Linked DNA regions of Homo sapiens. The protein of the gene in region 2 purifies or fractionates together with the protein of the main gene of each other region. This does not show direct contact. Each region holds a gene or a part of one and is shown on either strand. Other genes may lie near its edges.

Evidence for each region.
Region 1: the proteins of C1D (region 2) and WDR3 purify together in Homo sapiens (co-immunoprecipitation; one large-scale study listed by IntAct). This does not show direct contact.
Region 3: the proteins of C1D (region 2) and WDR43 purify together in Homo sapiens (affinity purification with mass spectrometry; 2 studies listed by BioGRID and IntAct, with this or other methods). This does not show direct contact.

What each region holds. Positions count from the first base shown.
Region 1 is NC_000001.11:117,936,153-117,939,807, reverse strand, and holds part of WDR3 (WD repeat-containing protein 3), read right to left. Parts: intron 3,040-3,655; coding exon 2,921-3,039; intron 1,329-2,920; coding exon 1,250-1,328; intron 332-1,249; coding exon 236-331; intron 1-235. UniProt on the Homo sapiens protein: Part of the small subunit (SSU) processome, first precursor of the small eukaryotic ribosomal subunit.
Region 2 is NC_000002.12:68,049,496-68,053,150, forward strand, and holds part of C1D (nuclear nucleic acid-binding protein C1D), read right to left. Parts: intron 3,643-3,655; exon of another isoform or gene 3,566-3,642; intron 1-3,565. UniProt on the Homo sapiens protein: Plays a role in the recruitment of the RNA exosome complex to pre-rRNA to mediate the 3'-5' end processing of the 5.8S rRNA; this function may include MPHOSPH6.
Region 3 is NC_000002.12:28,901,105-28,904,759, reverse strand, and holds part of WDR43 (WD repeat-containing protein 43), read right to left. Parts: intron 2,774-3,655; coding exon 2,636-2,773; intron 1-2,635. UniProt on the Homo sapiens protein: Ribosome biogenesis factor that coordinates hyperactive transcription and ribogenesis. Part of the small subunit (SSU) processome, first precursor of the small eukaryotic ribosomal subunit.

The DNA.
Region 1 (3,655 bases), on a different chromosome or scaffold from region 2:
ACAAACTAAAACATTAGTATTACCAGAAGCTGTAAGCCTAAAGCTAACCTGAGCTCAAATAAATAAGGATAATGAGCATATAAGGAAGAAAAGCTTTTTTAAGTGTTGCAGGTTATTGGTGTGATAGAATTCCTTCTAATATGATGTGAAGTACTGAATAATTACATCTGATTCTAAATCCAAGGTGCTTATGAAACTTCTAAACATATTGCCCATGATTTTAAGAAGTAATTACCTCTTGCAGATAAGCTATGTCCCATACCCTCAGTTCACTGTCTGAGGCCCCAGTGATGAGTCGCTTTTCTTCTGACAACAGAACCAACCCCCATACCTATAGAATATAAAAAGATTTGAGTAATACGATTTTCAAGAGATTCCAGGTAGCATAATATGACATTCCAAAAGTCTGTTACACCGTAGTAAAATGTCTAGCAATTTAAAGGCAAAGAAAAGGCATATCGACAACCCTTTCAAAATGCACTAAGAGAAGTCTCACTTTTACAGAGAAAAAAATGGCCTGCGGTGAAATTGTTACTTTTGTGATACTAGCAGTTTGTCTCTAACCTCGTATAATCAAATTAAGATAATGGCTGTTCAGCATAAATCTTAACTAGAATCCACTCAAATGATGATTTTAAGTCTTCTATTTCTTTGCTTTTAGCAGTGTCTAGCAAATAAAAGGTGCCCCACTAATGTCCATTGCATAACTTTCAGCTTCAAGTATCCGGGAATTAAATAATGAAAATAATATTGTTGCAAATCAACAAAGAATTTAATCTTCTTGTCATTAATTCTAGGTATTACCTTCCTGAATGCCTGATATGAATAAAGCACTGAGGATGCAAAGATATATAAAAAACAGTCCCTGAACTCAACTGAATAGATCTCTGTTCAAGTAACTATTTTAACAGCTACCACGTGCTGCTTACCTGTCAATAAGCTAGGTGCTGCACATATAATATCATTAAACTTCCCTACATTCATAAAAGTGGACACTTATTATTTAGAAATGATGAAACTCAGGAATTAAAAACCACGCAAGGCCAATTTTTACTACATGTCAGAGCAGCAGTATCTGCTCCAATGGCTGGCATTGCTTCCATCATACCAGCCTCACTGTCCCTCAAGATGGCATATGATAATTACTGTGTGCACTAAAAACAAAGAGCCATGAAAGGGGAAGAGAAGACCACCACCTTTTCCCTTTTGCCTTCCCATTATTTCCCTGGGCCCATGACCCTACACTTACCTCAGTCCGGTGGCCAACCATTGTTTTAAAGCAGTGCTGAGTATCAAGGTCCCACCATTTCACCATGGTATCTTTCCCACTAAAAGAAGAAACAGGAAAAAAATATATAGCCTGTTTAGGAAAACTCATTCAACGAATAGGGAGATCCAAAACTCACTGTTGCTTTAAAAGGAACATATGCTTCAATAATGTCTAAAGCTCCGATTCTCTCTGATCTTACTTTTGAAAAGCAAAGAATCCTAACTTTCCTTGTAGTTATTCCTGTGCAGAAAATAAAATGTTCCACCTATAAGCACAAGAATGACTTTAGATGCAGAGTACCAAAGAATACAGAATTTGATCCATCAGGCCTTCCTCCTATCATTTCCATCATCACAGCACTGGCATTCCCCTCAGACAGTCTACCATGGAAACATCTTAGACCGCTCCCACTCCCTTGTCTTCCTGTCCAGTTAGTCTCTTGTCCTGAAAATGCCTCCTCTGTGAAGTTTCTAAGTATTAACTCCTCTAGTCCATTTCTGTACACTAACCTGAACTTAAGTCCTACTACCTGGATTATTTTAACAGCTTCTCATTTGGTCTCTTTGTCCATTGCTGTTCTCTCATCCCATCCAATGTGCAACTGTCAGATAACCTTAATTTTTAATATTTGCACTAGCTCAATGTTCCCTGTAGAATCAAAGTCAGGCTCATTGGCAGCAGTCTCAAAATTTCCTATTTATTTGTTCTTAACCCCCTAAATATAACCTCTCGCAGCCAATGGCCTCTACTACTCCTGCTCAAACACCTCTTCCCTACCTCCTCACTACATAAATCTAATATAATCCTCCTTCATGAGCAAACTGGAAAAAAACACCGCTCAAAAACCTGATTTACAAAGTCCGTCCCATATAACCCCACCTTACAGTGTTATTTCTTTGCCTTTATATTCCCTAAGCTGTAATATATATTTTTTCTATTAGAACTATAGAATCATTCTCTTACAGAACCTGTGTTATCTGAACAAGACACTAATTTACCTGTATCCTATCCCACAGAAACAAATCCACCATTGGTAAAGCATTTAGTGCTCACAGCTTTTTCTGAGTCATTACTATGGTTCCTCTAATTAATGCCTGGCAAACCTTGGTATCCCAGCTTTTCCTAGGTGGCCATTCTTTAGGAATATTCATTATTATATTAGGTTGAACAATATAAAATTGTTGATATTTGATGATTTTTTATGTACACAAATAAAAATTTCAAATGGTTCATCCTAATAGGTGTTCAGAAGGCCTATGAAGTACAGTACATCTCTCCTCAAAAGGCAAGCCGAATTTAACACCTGGTATTCATATCTTCCCTCTGCTCCATATTCTGATTCCTGGCTTTCTAGAGATCTAGAAGGTAGACAAAGCTCATTCTATAATGAGTTTCAAAAGGCTAAGAAACACAGAAAAACTGATATCAAGAAAAAAGAATGACAAATTAGAAAAATGATTTTAAAAATAATATAGCTTTGGATAGCTCTACGATACTACTTAGAAGAAATGGAAAGAAGGAATGCAGGAGAACAGGAGAGAAAACTAATGCATAAGCATGAGCACACTGCTCATGAGAGAAATGAGTAAGGAATAAAGCAAATTCTCTCTTCCTAGAAAATAACTGGAAATTAAACCATTATTTCTTTACCTAGTAACTAGCAGGTTCTTTTCTCGTAGAAACAATGCTTGTGTGATGGCATCCTTGTGCCCCTTTAGACGGTACAGACCACTTTCATTGATCACATCCCATACAATAATATCTGTGTCCTAAAGGGATCAAATAATACAGATGAAAAATAATTTTCTTTACCATATATGGCCCAACTTGACAAACAATGAGACTTAATTATTAAAAAGGCAATACACAGTCCTTACAGAAAATTTGGAAAGCATGGGGAAAGTACAGGGGAATAAACACCAGCCTTATTCTCACCAACCAGAAATAATCCCCAGACATTGTTATTGCTCTAGTCTTTATGTATAATCCAGGTTATTTTCCTATTAGAAGACTAAAATCATGCCATTCATATCATTTTACAACCTTTTCTTTATTCATTTAATATTATTTCCATTTCTTCCATGTTATTCCAGAGTGTTCACATTTTTAATGCTCACATAATAATCAATTCTAAAGTAATAGCACAACTTATTTAAAAATTTTTCTGTTTCAGACATTTAGTTTCCAACCTTCTGCTGTTATAAATATGCAGAAGTGAACATTCTTATATACAAATTTCTGTATGTATCTCTGATTAGAAAAAACTAAAATGAAAAGCTCTTGGGTTATATGATATGTTTATTTTTAAAGTTTTGGATTCATACTATCAAAATGATCTCCAGGTTGGGTAAATCTATAGAACCAGCAGGGATATGTATGACAAGG
Region 2 (3,655 bases):
GATATCAACTACCAAAACTAAAAAGAAGTACATAAACCATACAGATCATTAACCACAGAAAAAGAATTACACAGTAGTCAAAGACCTACCCTACAAAGAGGTTCTAGTCCTAGATTTTACAGGTAATTTCTTTCAAACCTTCAAGAAACAGTTAACTCCTATGGTATTTAGCTGTTTAAGAATACAGAGAAAGATGGAAAACCTTTTTCATAACATACACAAAAATAAACTCCAAATGAATTAAAAATGTAAACGTATAAACATATTAGATTATATCAAATATTTACATCATCTAAATGAAACCCAAATGCTATAGGAAATGGCTGACAAACTTAACTGCATAAAAACATTTTTGAAAAGTCGTACATGGTAAAAGGATACCATAAGCAAAGTTAAAAGGCAAGAGACAGCCAGGAGAAAGTATCTGACAAAATATCACAAAGAATTAGATAGACTAAATAAACAGTTCCTAGAAAGCAGTAAAACAAATTAAAATAATGAAGATATCATCACCTATCAGATTGGCAATAATTTTAAAGATTAAGAATGTTCAGTGTTAGAAAGGGTATACACTGAAAGTGGAATATAAATTGGTACAGGTTTTTAAAATGCACATACCCTTTGACTCAGGAAATCCTTTTAAGAATCTAGCCTATAAAAATCCTTGCACATGTGCTTATAAATTAAAATGTCCTCCTCAAACTTGTCTCTAAACTTACTCCAGTTTGTCATGTATCAAACTGTCCGTCTGCTGGACTATTACCCATAAGTTTAAATGTTTTATTTCTCCATCTAAGAAAGAAACAAAAAAAAAAAAAATTTCTTGACTTCATATCACCCCCCAGCTAAGGCCCCATTTTCTCTCTTTTACAACAAACTCCTCAAAAGAGATGCTTATACTAACAGTCTCTAATTCCTTTCCTTCCATCCTTTCTCAAATCTCCTACAAACATACCTTACTTTTCTCTCAAAATTGCACTTGGCAAGGTCACCCACACTACCACATGGTTAAATTCAATGGTCAATTCTCAGTTCTCCTTGAGTGACACTGTTGACTGCCTTCTCTTGGTTTTCTCCGTTTCCTTTCTATCTCACTGGCTCCTTTCTTGGTCTCTTCGATGCATCCTTCTCACATCCTCAGCCCCTTAACCAAGTTTGAAGTGCCCAGAGGCTGTTCCTGACTCTCTTCTCTAATTTACTCCCAGGTAAACTGAGGGTTTTAAATTGCTTTAGTAAACTGAAGACTCCAACATTTGTTTCTCCAAACCTGACCTCTCCATTGAACTTCATATTTACATTTCCAGCTGCATACTCAATATCTCTGGTTGGATGTCTAATAAATTCTCAAACAGAACGTGCCCAAAGCCAAATTCCTAACCTTGCCTACTGCAGTTTTCATCATTTCATTTCACGGCAACTTCAACTTTCCAATTGTTCAGTCCCAAAATTTCAGAGTGATCCTTGACTACTCTCTCTCACTTCATCTTTAATACACACCCAGAATCTAGCCATGTCCTACCACCTCTACTGCTACTATCCTGGTCCAAACCACCAAACCACTATCCTGGTCCAAACCATGCCTGAATGCCCTCCTAAATAGCCTTCTTGCTTCTGGCCAAAGTCTATTATCAAGAATACAGAGAGACCATTCAAAATGTAAATAAGATTATGCCATGCTTCTGCTCAGAAACTTCCAAAGGCTTGCCACCTCATTCGACATAAGACAAAAATCCTTACAGTGGGCCCGGCCTGGTGGCTCATGCCTGTAAATCCAGCACTTTGGGAGGCCAAGGCAGGAGGACAGCTTGAGCCCAGGAGTTCGAGACCAACCTGGGCAACATGGCAAGACCCCATATCTATAATTAAAATACATATTTATAGGCTGGGTGCAGTGGCTTATGCCTGTAATCCAAGCACTCTGGGAGGTCAAGATGGAAGGACTGTTTGAGCCTAGGAGTTCAAGACCAACTTGGGCAACACAGCAAGACCCCAACTCTATTTTTAAAATCAAAAAATAATAACTATTTATCTTTTAAAAATCCTTACAGTGGGTTCAAAAAGCTCAACACAATCTGCCCTGACTGCCCGTCACCTTCTGTGACTTCATCTCCCACTCTCCCTTGCTTATTTCATTCCAGCCACATTGTTCTTCCCCCACGACATCAGGCACATGCCTACCTCCCTTTGGGCTTCTCTCCTTCCTAGAATACTCTATTCCTCTCTTCCTCCCTTACCAATACCTTCAGAGCTCATTATGTTACCTTCACCAGATCTCCACTCAAATGTCATCTATTGGTATCTCACTCTTAACCACCCCATTTTAAAATGCACACCCCTCCCCCACACTCCCTATCTCCTCCCCAACCTTACATTCCTCAATATCAACTAACATATATTTATTTGTTGCCGGTCTACTGCCAAAAGGCAACTGCATGGGAGCAGGAATTTTTGTGATCCGTTCACAAGCACTGCCTGACAGTCAATACATTTGTTGAAATAAACTATAACAAAATATTGGAAATAATCTAGATATTCATCGACAGGGAAACAGTTAAATGAATTACACCATATTCATCCTTGAGAATATTACATGTCTTCTAAAAATAAAGAAGTAAATCTATATATAGTGACACACAATGAGAAGGAAAAAGTCAGAGAACAGAGAACATTGTATATAACACATAATGTGCCTAATATATGCCATTTGGTTTTTAAAAAAAAATTGTATATACATACATGTAGAAAAAGGTCTGGAAAGAACATACAAAAAATAGACATTTTCTCTGAAAAGAGACAAGGATTAGGGAATAGGTTCAAAGCAGACTCATTTTTTTAACTCTTCATTCTTCATTGTTTACATTTCAAAAAGCACATATTAAATTTTTAATAAAAAACAAATAAAGGCACTTAATAAAGTATTTTGGCTCTTAACAAATACTGTATGTATTTTTAAAAAACAAAAAAAGGTCTTTATTTAAATGTGAATTTTTTCATCAAATTTTCCTACGAGAAAATATTTCCTTTCTTCAGAAGAACATAGTAGAGATTTTTCCTGCAATTATTCCCTGTCCCTAAGCCCCAATAAACAAGCAGTTATTTATTGTTAGAACAGGTTAGGGTGAACACTGAAAGCATGGTAGTAAGTAAGAATAACTGCCCTCATTAAATCTGAACTGAGCCACTTGCCTTTTCCCTAACTAAAAAAATAAAGACAAGGGGGACTAAAAAATAAAGGCTCTTCTATTATGAGAAATTCCTCCTAATTCAATTGATTTCTACTAACACTTTATTATAGGCAGCTGCTGAGTATTTATTCCTTCCACAGAAAAAGCGCAGAAATTTCCCTCTGTCCCCTTAGCTACTCTGACCCCAGGATCAAGCAGTGACTCTACGATATCAGCAGCAAACTCTTGAATAGCACTGATTATGTGCCAGGCACTACTCTAAGCATTCCACATGCACTTGTTCATCTAAACCTCACAGATGAATAAACTGAGCCAAAAGAAGTTAAAGAACATGCCTAAAGTTGTACATGTTAAAATTTCCAAAGAAGAAAAGAACTCACCCAGCTCTGCTCCTCACCCTCCTCCGGGGTTCTATAGGTACTCCTTGCCCTTCCACATACTCCTTCTAAAACACTGGCTGCAGAGGTAGA
Region 3 (3,655 bases), about 39 Mb from region 2:
GTTACATTCAGTTACTTTCCTTCCTTCCTATCAGCTGTGTACTCCAAGAACTAAGTCTTATATACACGCAAGTAACTAAAGGATATGAACAGATACATTCCACAGAAAGAATTCAGTTAGAAAATATACCAAAATATTCAACCTTGTTAGTAATCAAAGAAATACAAACCAAAACAAAGTGGCATTTTTAGTCTGTTCCTGTAGCAATGTGTTTAGCCTTATGATGCCCATGCTGGTGAGGTTACATAATACTATTGCCAGCAGCAGTGTAAACTAGCATACCCTTTTGGAAAGCAATTTAGCGATGTGTTCACTCACTTGTTCACTTACTCATTCAACAAATATTTACTAAATACCACTTACAAGCCAGGCACTTTCAATACATTATTACATTTAAGTCTTAATAAAATCATGCAAGGTAGGCTGTTAATACCCATTTAAGGGATGAGAAGTTAAATTATTCACACATGATCATACAACTAGTAGGATTCAACCTCAGGACAGACTAGCTCCAAAGCCTGGTCCTTTTCCACCTTACCATACCATCCCAGTACCCCTCACCCTGACCCTCTTGACTCCTTTTTGATAAATTCATCCCTGTCGAAGATGTATTTACAATCTTGTAAGGTTGTGAAATGATATAAAAAGGAGTTCTAGGCTGGGTATGGTGGCTCATGCCTGTAACCCCAGCACTTTAGGAGGCCAAGCAGGCAGATCACACGAGGCCAGGAGTTCGACACCAGCATGGCCAACATGACAAAACCCCATCTCTACTAAAAATACAAAAATGAGCCAGCTATGGTGGTGCACGTCTGTAATCCCAGCTACTCAGGAGGCTGAGGCACGAAAATCACTTGAACCCAGGAGGCAGAGGTTGCAGTGAGCTGAGACCGCACTACTGCACTCTAGCCTGGGCGACAGAGTGAGACTCTGTCTTTAAAAAAAAATAAGTCTTCTAGGCTCCAGCAGCCACAGCAGCTGAGCAGCTATCACACTGCACAAGATGCTAGGTACCTGCTGAACACAAAAAACCTATCCAATTAAAGGATAGGCTCCTACCTATAGTAGGTGTAAGAGCTCACCTGAGGACCACACTCGACTTGGAGGAGGGGGGAAGAATATAGGGAAGAATGCTTTCTTGAGATGGATCTCTGAATGCTTTAAAATTCATTTATAGTTGAGTATTATTTTTGTAATCTTAATATAAAAACAAGTAATACATTCCTAAATGCAAACTTAAAATCAGATTAAAATATTCCTCTACCAAATTAGCTGTTTCTTTGTTGTCGTTGTTGCTGTTTTGTTGGGCTATTCAGTAGTGGTAATGATACTGCTGAGATAAAGTACTTATCTCCTATCACTGATATTAAGCATAAATTAGTAAAAATTATTCCAGAAAGTATTTTTATACTACATATATAGCAACCCTTTGGCTCACTAATTTTAGGTTAGTAATTCTGTGAATCCATGTAAGAAAAAGAAATTGTTTTACAACAATTTAAAAATCTGGAAACCCCTAAATGGTCAACAAGTTAAGTAACATAATGGACTATCCCACTTGTTGGGATTTTAAGCAGTCACTAAAAATCTCTATAACCAGTTATTGACAAATATAAGATAGTTATGTTGTAATCTAATGAAAAAAATCAGGATACAAACTAGATGAACAGAAAGCCAACTATATTTTTTTAATGTATGTATAAAGCAAAGAAATATACAAATTATTAAGAGGACCTCTCGGCGACAGACTTAGGTATAAATTTTTTTCCTTTTCAACTTTATGTAGTTACAAATTTCCTATAGACAAATGTTATTTAAAACAAAAAACTTAAAACACTCCTATATACAGAAGTCCAGCGAACAAAAACACACTGCAATAGATATTGTCTGAACCTACTAGACCAGTTCGGTTACTGTCTTCCAATGCCAAACCATCCTTTATATTCTGCTGTGATGCTGGGACTCAGCAACCTGATTTCTGATTTCCCAGCTCGATCCATAGGTTCTACCAATAGCAACTGCTAGAGGGAGACAAGGATGGAGAGAGAAGGGACTTGTTCCTTCCTGTCTCTTTATTTGCATCACCCCAACAGTGGTAATGCCCAACAGCAGCAGCTGAACCCAATATCCAATTTATCCAACCCTAGGAGAACCAATCTCATCATCTCCATCAGAGACACTAGCACCAGGCAGCTGGAGCCTCCTTCTCAGTTTGAAGTCTCGATCCCATGCCCATGGGGCCACTCTTCAAGAGACAGCAACAGCAGCACAACACTTGCCCCTAAAAGATCTCAGTGTTAGCAGTAATTTCAACTGCCTCCTTTATTCCCCTAGGTCAAGAGGTGGGGAGCTGCTTTCCACAGCTGCTATCTATGATTCCTTAGAGTTCCTGTAACCCTTCCTTATTTTAAACCTAGTCAATAAGTCTTCATACTCTGACCCATAATAAGGACTGCTGTTAACTATTATAGCTTTTATCAAATATTACTATTCAGTTATTTAAACGTAGATGAGACTGAAAACTGTCCCTACTGCACAGATCCCATCACATACCTTGAAGTGTTTTTTTTTTAATAATCTCTAATAATCAGCTTCCCTGTCACATCACTTTTAAATAAAATATACACACACTTACTATTAATTTACTGTGTAACTCTCCTTTTACTGTGCTGTATAATAAAATGCTACCAACTGCTGTGCCAAGAGCCAATAAGTCAGTCTGGTTACTCATTCCTACAGCTTCTGATTTCCTTTTTTTCCTCTGGGGACTTTCCTGGAAAAAAAGAAAAACAATGTTTTTATTTAGTATTGCAAATACTAAAACATCGTTAATGAACAAATACAAATGCCCACCAGCCCACAAAAGACATTTTAAAAGGGGGGAAGAGAGAAGCTATTGGGTGATTTACTTCTCACTACTTCAAAAAGAAATCCCTCCAATGGGAAGAGAAACTCGTAATTCTATGTCCCCCGTCTCCCACCCCTATGGAAAAAAGGCAGCAAATAGGAAAACCTAGTATGTTCTTGGTACTCTCCTAACAGGTCCAAGAAGCCTCAATGCTGTTTCCACTTCTCAGAAACAGGCCGCCCCTCCTGACAGGTCCAACCTAAGCGAAGCCTTCACTCCCCAACCAAAGAGATTCATACCCAAAAATCTATGAATCCGTAAGTCCATATCTAAGCAGCCAACTCTCCTTTATCTCTCCTAATTTTTCCACAAATTCTAGCTTAGTTGTCAAGAAAAGAGCCTCAAAAGTTTTTACCTTTATAAACGTGCATTAACTTCAATTTGAGTCAACAAATAGCTTTAACTAGTAGAGCAGCTCAGAGCACACAAGAGAGAAGTTGCCCCACTGACTGGTCAAGGGCTGGCTCAGTGATTCAGTGACTTCAGAGACAAAAGTCTCACTCAAGTGGCAAATGCCACAAGACTTCTTTCATTTCAAAAGTGATGTTAACAGCTCATGTCTTCCCAACAAAAAGACAATGACCCTAACTTAAAAGCACTACATCAGTTTATAATGCTGAGTATTTATTATGATTTCAGAACTTCTCTTCCGTGTTTTTTTAAATTACGGCTCACCAGCCTATATGTTTTTAGCATAAAGTTCTGAGAAATCCATTCTTTCACTGTAAAACAAGCCAATACCATAGA